3 linked regions of the Homo sapiens genome follow. The protein of the gene in region 1 interacts with the protein of each later gene in a pairwise test. Each region holds a gene or a part of one and is shown on either strand. Other genes may lie near its edges. The genes, in order: UBE2E2, TRIM45 and RNF220.

Evidence for each region.
Region 2: the proteins of UBE2E2 (region 1) and TRIM45 interact in a two-hybrid assay, tested with the Homo sapiens proteins (one study listed by BioGRID).
Region 3: the proteins of UBE2E2 (region 1) and RNF220 interact in a two-hybrid assay, tested with the Homo sapiens proteins (one large-scale study listed by IntAct).

Annotation. Positions count from the first base shown.
Region 1 is NC_000003.12:23,584,217-23,587,868, forward strand, and holds part of UBE2E2 (ubiquitin-conjugating enzyme E2 E2), read left to right. Parts: intron 1-3,652.
Region 2 is NC_000001.11:117,115,137-117,118,788, forward strand, and holds part of TRIM45 (E3 ubiquitin-protein ligase TRIM45), read right to left. Parts: intron 3,632-3,652; coding exon 2,898-3,631; intron 1,610-2,897; coding exon 1,480-1,609; intron 554-1,479; coding exon 439-553; intron 1-438. UniProt on the Homo sapiens protein: E3 ubiquitin-protein ligase that plays a role in the regulation of inflammatory response.
Region 3 is NC_000001.11:44,411,698-44,415,349, forward strand, and holds part of RNF220 (E3 ubiquitin-protein ligase RNF220), read left to right. Parts: exon of another isoform or gene 1-91; intron 92-283; 5' UTR 284-400; coding exon 401-1,025; intron 1,026-3,652. UniProt on the Homo sapiens protein: E3 ubiquitin-protein ligase that promotes the ubiquitination and proteasomal degradation of SIN3B. Independently of its E3 ligase activity, acts as a CTNNB1 stabilizer through USP7-mediated deubiquitination of CTNNB1 promoting Wnt signaling.

The sequences.
Region 1 (3,652 bases):
GTTGATTTGCATGTGTTGAACCAACCTTGCATCCCAAAGTTAAAGTCTACTTGATCATGGTGGATTTGCTTTTTTGTATGCTGCTGGATTTGGTTTGCTAGTATTTTGTTGAGGATTTTTGCATCTACATCCATCGATCCCTTTTAGTCTTGTTCCCTGTCTCTGTCCTCCCTTTTCTAGGTGGGACTATAAACCCTTTGGCTTCCAGGGTACCCAGTGTAGCTCCATCCATTAAAGAGGCAAGGTGGGAGTTGTCTGAGCCTTTTTCCTCTAGAATCAAAGGTGCACATACCACAGATCTCAAAAAATGCGAAGAGGTAGATTACGCAATATGACAATCTTTTTTTTTTTTTCTGGAAAGACGGTCTCGCTCTTTCGCCCAGCTGGAGTACAGTGGCGCAATCATGGCTCACTGTAATCACGACCCCCTGGGCTCCAGTGAACCTCCTACCTCAGCCTCCCAAGAAGCTGGGACCACAGGTACATGCCACCACACCCAGCTGTTTTTTGTTTTTTTTTTTTTTTTTTTTTTTTTGTAGAGATGGGTTCTCACTGTGTTGCCCAGGCTTGGTCTCAAACTCCTCGGCTCAGGCCATCCTCCTGCCTCAACCTCCCAAAGTGCTGAGATTACAGGCATGAGCCGCTGTGCCCAGTTGGTATGACAGTCTTTCACTCGCTTGCAAATAATAGTGATTGTTAGTTGACAGGTATGTACTCTTTGCTTCTAAATTGTGTAGGGAGACAGAGGTGAGATAGAGGAAGTAGAGGTGAGTAAGAAGAAGGTATGTTCCCCTTCATCAGTGATCTTGCAGTCTTACGCTTTCATTCAGGTTATTATTTTATGACTGGTATTTTGTTAACAAAAATGCCATGATGCTGGCTTGGAGCAGCGGCTCATCCTGTAATCGCACCACTTTTGGAGGCCAAGGTGGGAGGACACTTGAAGCTAGGAATTTAAGACCAGCCTGGGCAACATCTGCCGTCTCTACCAAAAAAAATAAATCAATAAACTGGACATGCTACTGTGTGCCTGTAGTCCCAGCTACTCAAGAAGTTGAGGCAGGAGGATTGCTTGAGCCCAGGGGTCAAGGCTGCAGTGAGCTATGATCCCACCACTGCACTCCAGCCAGGGCAACAGAGTGAGACCCTGTCTCAAAAAAAAAAAAAAAAAAAGACATGATTTTTATTAAACAGATGAGGAAATGTGATTTAGAGGAAAGCTTTGTATACCTAACTTCCATCTCTATGATATTCTGTTAACCACACTGTAGATCCTATACTTCTGCCTCAGGAAACCTCTAATACATGCCGTACTGGTGTTTGGGAGAATTAAGTACTTGAAGTCATCTAACTCTGTTCTGCATAAGTCTGAACATGCTCCTCTTTTCAAAAGTGTAAATAATTTTTGAACAAAAACAGAAAATGTGGGAGGCTTTGATTTCAATTTACTTATCTACTGATAAATTTTGTGGCTTTTCTTTAGTAAAAATGAGGAAAACTGACAGATGATAATCTCAAATATTAATAAAGATTTGGGAAAATAGTAACAATCTAGAAACCCAAAATGATGGGAAATATTTTCTTCTTGTTAGAGAAATAGGGTACAGTAATTTATGTTTGGAGCCTGGCTTGGATGGCAGAGTGAAACTGTCTCAACAAAAAAAAAAAATTATTTGGTTGATAACATGTTTTTTTTTTTTATTACCTTTTAGTGTTGCTAAATTCATGACTTTTATTTACCATTTATTAAGTTTAACATTCTGCTAAGAAACAGTATTTTCAGACTTTCACATTGAAAAGTCCTCCCTTAATTAAGCATATACAATTTACCATTTTCAGCAGAGATCCATTTTCACAACTAGCTCTTCAGGATTATTCCACTGAGCTGAATCTTTATGTGCAGCATATGAAAAAGTAGTTTGTAGCCTTTTTCTCCTTTCATGAAATATTAGCTTAAACATCAGCACTGCTACTGGGGGTAATATTCAGAAAATCATAGGGACATGTAAATTGATATGAGAAGATAGTTACTATGTTGAATAGAATTTTAAGTGAACATCAAATACTAATTGTTAGTGGTCTTTTTTATTTTTTTAGAAACAGAGTCTTGCTCTGTCACCCAGGCTGGAGTGTGGTGGCATGATCACAGCTCACTGTAGTCTTAAACTTCTGGGCTCAAGCGATCCTCCCACCTCAGCCTCTCAAGTAGGCTGGACTACAGGGGCACACCACCACACCTGGCTAATTTTTGTTATTTTTTTGTGGAGTTGGGGGTCTCAGTGTGTTGCCCAGGCTGGTCTTGAACTCCTGGCCTCAAGCTGTCCTCCACCCTCAGACTCCCAAAGTGCTGGGATTACAGACGTGAGCCATCTGACCCAGCCAATAACATGATTTTTTTAATTCCTTCATTGTGTATTTTTACTTTATCCCTTCATTTTATACTTTAAACAAATTTAAGATTTGTATAACTTCCAAAGATGCATGCATGGTAATGGTCCTCACATCGTTGTTTTTAAAACAAAAGTTGGAGAGTACCCAAACATCTAAAAACAGGAAATTCGTTCTTAATTCAGGTATTAGAAATGATGAAGTAGATCTACAATTATCTATGTAAAAAGTTATTTACCATATCGGTATAAAAATCATAGTTATTTTTTAAAAGATTACAAAAGCAGACTATAAATTAATCCCTTTTTTTTTTTTTACATCATGTGATTAGAAGTGTAGGAAGAAAACATACCACGATGTTAACAGCAGTTTTCTTTGCGTGGATTTATACACGAGATGGTCTTTACTTTCAACTTCCTGTCTTGCATATTGTCTGAGGTGGTTTTCTAAATTATTATTAATTACTGTTTTATAGTTAGTGTGTATAATTTTACAGGTGGAAAAAAAATTTTTTAATCAAATTTGAAAACGTAAAAGAACCTTGAAAGCAATTAAATGTTAAGCATGCAAAAAAAAGTTTGCACAACGCACGCTAATTGTTACCAGCACTCTAACTTGTTTTTAATTGTTTCTCCTTTTGCCTGTACTGAAATACTATTAACAGTTGATATGACACATTTTCCCACCCCACAGCTTCTTGTTCCCTTTATTCTTCATTTGTTTCCCTCCACCCCCTTTGAGCTGAAGTGGCAGACCTGTCTTATTCCCAGTGTGTACACTCTGGATGTGGGTACAGTTTGAGGTGGAACATATAAGTCAGTGTTATTCTTCTGACATTGAGCCTTACCTTCATCAGTAAGTTAGAATGGATCTTCAATGTGTTTCACTAATATAAGTTCTATTTAATTAAACACCTATCTTGAGTGATACAGACTTAAACTATTAAGGATGCCCACGTTTCACCCTACTCTTTGCATTCTAGAATGCCAGGAATCAGAACAAGATTACTTTTTTTGAAGGTAGAGAAATGTGACTCAGATTTCACTTTGGCCCCTATTACTCTAATGTCATTACTTAAGCTCAAGTGAAAGGCTACATTTTTAAAAAAGTATCCTGGCCAATTGCCAGATATTTTGTGTCTGTATTTGGTAGTGCTGGTTTAAATCTTGTTGAATCTTGACTGGACTGGGTGAAATGGTAGAGTTTTCATTTCAACATCTGAGAAAATGAAGAAGAATCACAAAGAGTAGGCAGAGAGGCAAAC
Region 2 (3,652 bases), on another chromosome or scaffold:
TAGGCAGATAGATGACTAGTCAATTGTGAGGAGGGGGCATAACCCTCTCAACTGTGTTCATGTCCAGACACAGTCTGGACAAAACTGGAAAATCCTGAGCTAGATTATATTTTTTGAATATGCATGGTTGTCTGCTGGCAGATCACCCCCTGTGATCAAGACATCTTCTCCATATTAAGAATCCTAAGAAACCAACTGGGAGAATGATAAGCTATAAGCATAACTGCCTGGAGGTGACACAGGGATACAGGGTTCTTATGGTCAACAGCATCCTCCAGGAAGAATAAGAGTAGCAAAATCTGGGCTGTTTCTAAAGTGAAGAAGAAGACATGGGGATTCTATTCAATCTCTCTGTATAGCTGATCCTATGTGAAATGTCTCCAGATCCTAAGACAGTAGAATCCAGGGAGCTCAGGGAAGCACGTGCACCAGTCTTACCTGCACATGCTGTTCTTTGATGCAGACCCACACAGTATAGACGCCAGGTTCCTTGGGGGTGTAGGAAATGTAGTATGTCCCATCCTTGTTATCCTGGACCATTGTTCTGACTGGGCTGAATGGAGATAAGAGTCAAAACACCACTCACTTCCACAAGCTGGCTTCAGTTGCTACTATTTCAGAATGTAAACTCTACACCATCCCATTCAGTATTAATGTTAAATATACCCAAACAGGATGCTTCTTCCATTTGCTTCAGAAGTTAATTTTACAACAGAAGGTAAACAGCATAAATTCCAATTTAGTCTGATATTCAGACAAATTCCTTGAATATATTATTGTGTCCTTTTCAACAGGCTTCTGTTGAACCCTCTTGCTCTGTTGTCCCTCCTCCATTCTACAATTCCAGAGAAATATAAACATGCTCCAGGCATAATTTAGTACCAAAGGGAGACTGAATTTTGAAAAGGGTACCATTCAGTCTAACACAGAATATTTTTCAACTTATTCTAAAGCTTGAGATGAAAACAATCTGAGGGGCAGACCATAGCTTTGAGAGAGAATTGAATACAAAACCCACACAAGAAAACACATTTGGTCACGTAACGTTTCATAGTATTATGGGGAGGTAAGACGTAACTAGTGAGTTACACTCCAATATCTTTTTTTTTTTTTTGGACCTGGGGTCTTGCTCTGTTGCCCAGGCTGGAGTGCACTGGCACAATCACAGCTCACTGCAACCTCGACCTCCTGGGCTCAAGGGATCCTCCCATCTCAGCCTCCTGAATAGCTGGGATTATAGGCATATGCCTCCACTCCCGGCTAATTTTTTTTTTTTTAATTTTGTAGAGACAGGGTGTCCCTATGTTGCCCAGGCTGGTCTTGAACTCTTGGGCTTAAGCGATCCTCCTGCCTCCACTTCCCAAAGTGCTGGGATTACAGGCATGAGCCACTGTGCCCAGCTCCAATATCTTAAAGGACCTCATGTTTCCAGTTTTCTCACTGCCTGTTATCCATGACACCTAATTGTGTCATACAAACCTGTCTTTCTTATCTTTAGGGACAACGGCAACTTGAACGTTGTCTCCTCCCCTGCCCATGATTTCTCCTGCGGCATCCTTACAAAGCAGGGTGAAAGAGGCCGTCTGTTTCTCCCGGGCTCTGTGGAGGTCTGAAAAAGATAAACACTCGGTCCTCACCTCGAATGTAAACTGCAGTGACTACATCTCCATCTTGCTTTTTCTCTTCAGAACAAAGGGTTGTACTTTACTGTAACCACCCTGGGTCCCTTTGTTTTCTCTTCCCCTTCTGCCTCCCAGAGTACGCCTCTTGGGAGTCCTTCCTGGTTGGCCTGGTTCTCTCAGCTAGCAGCTGCTTTGGATCACACAGGATCCTGGACCTTACCTTCAGTCCTAGGACTGAAGGTCCTATGCTTTAAAAATACTCACGACTGACCGAGGTATTTAAAGAAAACCTCTAGACCCTGTGAGAGAGGATAGTAACCCCAAAACCACCCTCCCTAAGCTCCAGATCCTGCTGGGCTAGGCAGGGAGTACAGCTGACCAGCCTCACGACCCTCCATGTTTTGAGATCCTCTGCAACTTGGTAGCTCATGCCAAGGTACTGGGGGGATATCCAGTAGCTACAGCCCCTACTCCAGCATTCAGATGAAACAGGGTTTCTTAACCTGAGGTTCATGAACTACTATGAGGTCTATGGAAAGGCTTATGAAGAGTCTAAAAATCTGGAATTGTATGCACAAGTTACTGGGTGTTTCTGTAGGAGAGAACATTCTCAAAGAGATCTATGGCTTCCAAACAGTTAAGAATGCCTGTGTCATTAAGATGCAATCTTCCTATCAGGACTGACCTACTGACCTGTGAAACATATGTTTTAATAATATGCTTCCATTAGAAAGGGAACACTCGTTAAAAAAAACCATTTTTTCCCCCAATTAAATGAAACACCTACCATATCCTTTTAAATGCCAGTAAAGTTGATGTGAACCAAAAAGGGCCTAAAGGAAAGGAAACCGTAATCTCATCTTCCTCATTCCTCTGAAACTCCCTTCAGAACTTGATCTAGGAATCCAGGGCCTGCCATGCTCCTCTCTGAGCAGGCAGAATTTCACCTGGCCCTAGTCACTGCTGTTACCTCCAACGGGCACTGTCTCTGTTCTGCCATCTGATAGAAACAAAACATGATCTGTGTGTTTCTCAGCCATTATTACTTCTCTGAACTGGAAAAGGGTCAAGCCTCACTCCTGTATTAACTGTACCCTAGCCAGAACAAACCAGAAAGGGCAAAGGTGGGGGTCACTGTCTTTCAGATCAGTTTATCTCCCCACCTTTGGTAACCTGGTCAGTAGGGCATGCTTCCTAGCAGAACAAGCCACCAATCTTCACACACCACCTCCCTGTCCACTGCCCTCTCAATGTCAATGGGAAATGCCTTCCTACCTTCTCCTTGTAGGACACATTTGGCTGGATCAACCTCTTTGGTATTAATCGTACCATAAATTTCATAGCCACGGCACTGGCCTGCTTTCTCCTGAGGACAGAAGCGTATCTTATCATTTACTCCAGGACGGGTGCTATATTGAACTTTGTTCAGCTTCCTGAGCCGTTCTACCACCACCCTCTTGGTGATGAGGATCTCCAAGTCTGAGCCGCTGGTCAGCAAGTGCTCGGTGAACTCCACTCCAGTCCGCATGTCTGCCAGTAACTGTTCCAGCTGGGCCTTCTGCAGCTGCAGGGAATTTTCCTTCTGGGCCCGTATGTCTTCCAGCTGCTTCAGCAGCTTGTCCCGATGCTCCTCAATGGCCTTAATGTAGCCCTCCGAGAATGTCCGGACATCAGCTGCCACTGCCTCCACTCGCTTCTGGAGGGCACTGTTTATTATGTGGATCTGAGCCAGGGCTTCCTCCAGGGCCTCCACGTGGGGCTGAGTACCTTTGAGGAGCTCCCACACAGAGTCCCCATGCTTGTGGATGACATTGCTGGTGAAGTCACAGGGGTGTTCCCGATGCTCCCCCACCACACAATCCTGGCACACGGGCCGGTCACAGAACTCACAGAACAGCCTCAGTTCCTCTGCAGGGTGAACAGGACACAGGATGGGCTTCCCAATCCGGCTGTAGCCTTTCAAGTCTTTTAGGTCCACCATGGTGTGGTAAGTCGTTTTCTTCTGCCGCCTAGGGGCAAACAGAATCAGT
Region 3 (3,652 bases), on another chromosome or scaffold:
TGGAGGTTTTATGATATTTTTTTCTTTGCTGGGCTCAGGCGCATTTCACCCAGAACGTGTAGGGACCAAAGTCAGCTACGCGTACATCACAGTAAGTTGTCTATTGATTTTCCTGAATGAAAATGGTCTGATGCTGCTGCCCACTGGCTCCTAAAGCCTGTGGTGTCTCTTGCCCGAGCATCTGTGAGCCAGAAGGATGGTGTTTCGATCACTTGGGGTTTCCCTTTTTTTCCTCCCCCTGACTTTCCTCCCCCTTCTTTTTTTCTCTTTGCTGTTTCTACAGGTCTTAGGAGGGAATGATTCCCCAGTAATATTCCCTGCCCTGACCCAAAGTGCTGGTTGGCCTCCCTCCCAGGGAAGACTGCTTCTTGCGTAACGCCGGCCACAGAAAGAGACTCCGATGGACTTACACCGGGCAGCCTTCAAGATGGAGAACTCATCCTACCTTCCCAACCCTCTGGCATCCCCAGCACTGATGGTCCTGGCATCCACGGCTGAGGCCAGCCGTGATGCTTCCATCCCTTGTCAGCAGCCACGACCCTTTGGTGTACCTGTCTCAGTTGACAAGGACGTGCATATTCCTTTCACCAACGGTTCCTATACCTTTGCCTCTATGTACCATCGGCAAGGTGGGGTGCCAGGCACTTTTGCCAATCGTGATTTCCCCCCTTCTCTACTACACCTCCACCCTCAATTTGCTCCCCCAAATCTAGATTGCACCCCAATCAGTATGCTGAATCATAGTGGTGTGGGGGCTTTCCGGCCCTTTGCCTCCACCGAGGACCGGGAGAGCTATCAGTCAGCCTTTACGCCGGCCAAGCGACTTAAGAACTGCCATGACACAGAGTCTCCCCACTTGCGCTTCTCAGATGCAGATGGCAAGGAATATGACTTTGGGACACAGCTGCCATCTAGCTCCCCCGGTTCACTAAAGGTTGATGACACTGGGAAGAAGATTTTTGCTGTCTCTGGCCTCATTTCTGATCGGGAAGCCTCATCTAGCCCAGAGGATCGGAATGACAGATGTAAGTACTTTGGTTCCAGCCCTCCCTTACCCCCAGTAAGCCCTGCCTCACCGTGATGTTCAACAGGTCGGTGGCGTTTTGCATGCTCCTAGTAATAGGAAGGGCCAACTACTTCCCTTTCACTAGCTGTGGAGTGCTAACCTTTGCTTGTCTCTTATCAGTGAGCACTGATAGTTCTTGAAATATTTTTCTGAAAGTAGCCAGAGGCAAGTTGGCCCCAGCACAGCCTTTCTCTCCGGACCCTAGTGGGCTTATTCTCTGAGGACTTGAGTGAAGAGGGGTGCCACCGACGTACTGAAGTGAATGTCATTTCATTAAGAAGTGTCGGCTCCTAGGGAATTTGGGGGGCCTAAAGAAACATGTCCACCCCTCCTCTCTTTGCTGTCCTCGTTATGTTTGTCTGATCTCAGTGTTATTTTTTAGCTTTTCCATTGTATCACATCCAGCAGACTCCACGTGATTCTATTTTCACAACTCTCAGCCCTTGTCCACATCAGGCTATTTTTCAGAGAAGGACAAAGGTGTCGTCAATCACCATAAAGCATTTCACACAGCTGTGTTTTCCTTGCGATCGCAAGGCTAGAAAGCCGACTTCTCTTGGGATTTCACAGGTTTGCTGGATGCTTATCCTGGGGCTCACTTTTAGGACTAGACACGGTTGACCTGTGTGACTGCTCCAAATTTGATGTTCACAACTATTATTAATTTCTGCTTATGAAACAGCTTTTTTTCATGTTCTCCAAGTGCCTTGTTGGGCTCTGGCTACACTTATAGCTGGAACTAAACCTTTATTTGGAACTTGTAGACTAGGAGTGCTGAACCCTGCAATCTTTTGCTCTAATATAATCAGAAAATAATTGTGTTTTGAAGCTTTTGGGCTGTGGGTAGACAGAGCAGTTTTCTTCAAGCCTGGTGAGAATTTATGAACTGAGGGTGTTTTTTCCACGCAACCCTTTGTTCTCAGATTTGCTTCATTTTATTTTCTTAAGAAAACTACATCTGAGGTTTGCCTTCCACTTTTCTCTATTTTTTCGTGCTCCCATCCTCTCTATAACCACCAACACGAATACCATTTTTTTCCCTCCTCTTTATGATGCCGAGGAGAGTAATAGAGACATTGCAGCTCTCTCCCCTGTCGCCACTGCTTCGTCAGGCTGTCTCCTTGAATTAGGCACTGTGTTAACTTCCCTGCGCTAAAAGGCATCTGCCTAAACCCAGCGTACCTTTTCAATAAAAGTCATCATAAAATCAACCTGCCTTGTAAATCCATCGCTCTTTGGTTTTGAAATATGTTGCAAGTGTGTCTTTTATGTCAGCCTCTGTAAGCCGGAGACCTCCCCACTTAAGGGAGAAGGCTGCTGGCTGACAGCACTACTGCTAGTGTTGCCCTCTCACTTTGGCTTTGGTTCTCTTTCACCTTTTCAGTTTCTGTTGACTTGTGTGTCTTGTGATCCTGCTTCTTGGATATACCTGCTGAACAGGTATCGGCATTGTGTTGGTTCATTTGATTTTATTTTAGTTTTCATTTGTCCAGTGATGTGCAAGTGATCAAGGCTAGTTATAATGTGACCTCCAGCCAAAACTGCCTTGTGTTAGGGTGTGACAGATTCCGCCCCTTTTTTTCTCCAAATACAAGTTGAAAATGAAATCTTCTCTTAGCTAATATGCCACAAAGTAACATCTGGAGATTGAGATCTCTTTCTTCTTACCTAACAGATCCAGCTTGTCTCCATTTTTCTATCTTTTTAGCCCAAACCTGTATCCGACTCCAGAGCAGGAGGAAGCTTGTTAGTCAAGTCAGAACTCATAGACGTGGATATCCATTCCCCTCTGAGTGTCAAAGCCATAACTCTTCTGTTTGCCTGGTTTGCATTGTGTGGTGGTGGCATCCCCCATGGAGATGGATCCCTCACACAGGAGTACGCCTGGGTGGAGAAAAATTAAATGAGTCTGTCTCCCAAAGTGAAATGGAATTCTGACCTTGAAATTAATGAGATTCTGATCAGAAGGGTGGGGAAACTTCTTTATTTCCAATGCGGTGTTATACAAATTGGAGTCCCTTTCCTCTTTTATTCATTTAAAATAGTCTTCCCTTATAGAGTACCCTGTGTTCTCCTTTTTTTTTCTTGTACACAAGCATAAAACCTATAGGAGTGTCTGTGAGGGGAGGGTGTTCGTACACCCTCGTTATTATCCAGAGTTGCATTTGTGACTAATCTTTAATAAAAAACAAAGGTGCAAAGTGAAAAGGAGGCTGTGCTACCCTGTGGTCACCCTGGAGTTGTGCTTTTTACTCCCTTCCTTACCTTAGGTGGTTAGCACATCCCTCACTGGGTCATACTAGATAGCGTTTGTGCTTTTGATTGCGAATTTTTGGAAGGCAGGAGAAGTATTTTTCTGTAAGGAAGGGTTGAAGAGGCACTAAGACAAAGTCTGCAGCAGCTTTCTTGGCTCCTGTCATATGCCGACGTGTGTCGGAATATTTATGGTCTGTTTTATGTAAATACATATTTAAGGGTCGTTAGAAGGCCTGATTATTCCCACTAGATGCCTTTCAGGTCCTCCCTACAGAACCGTTTTGAAATAAGTAATATTTCTCAGATAATCGAGTGACAGTATACAAGACT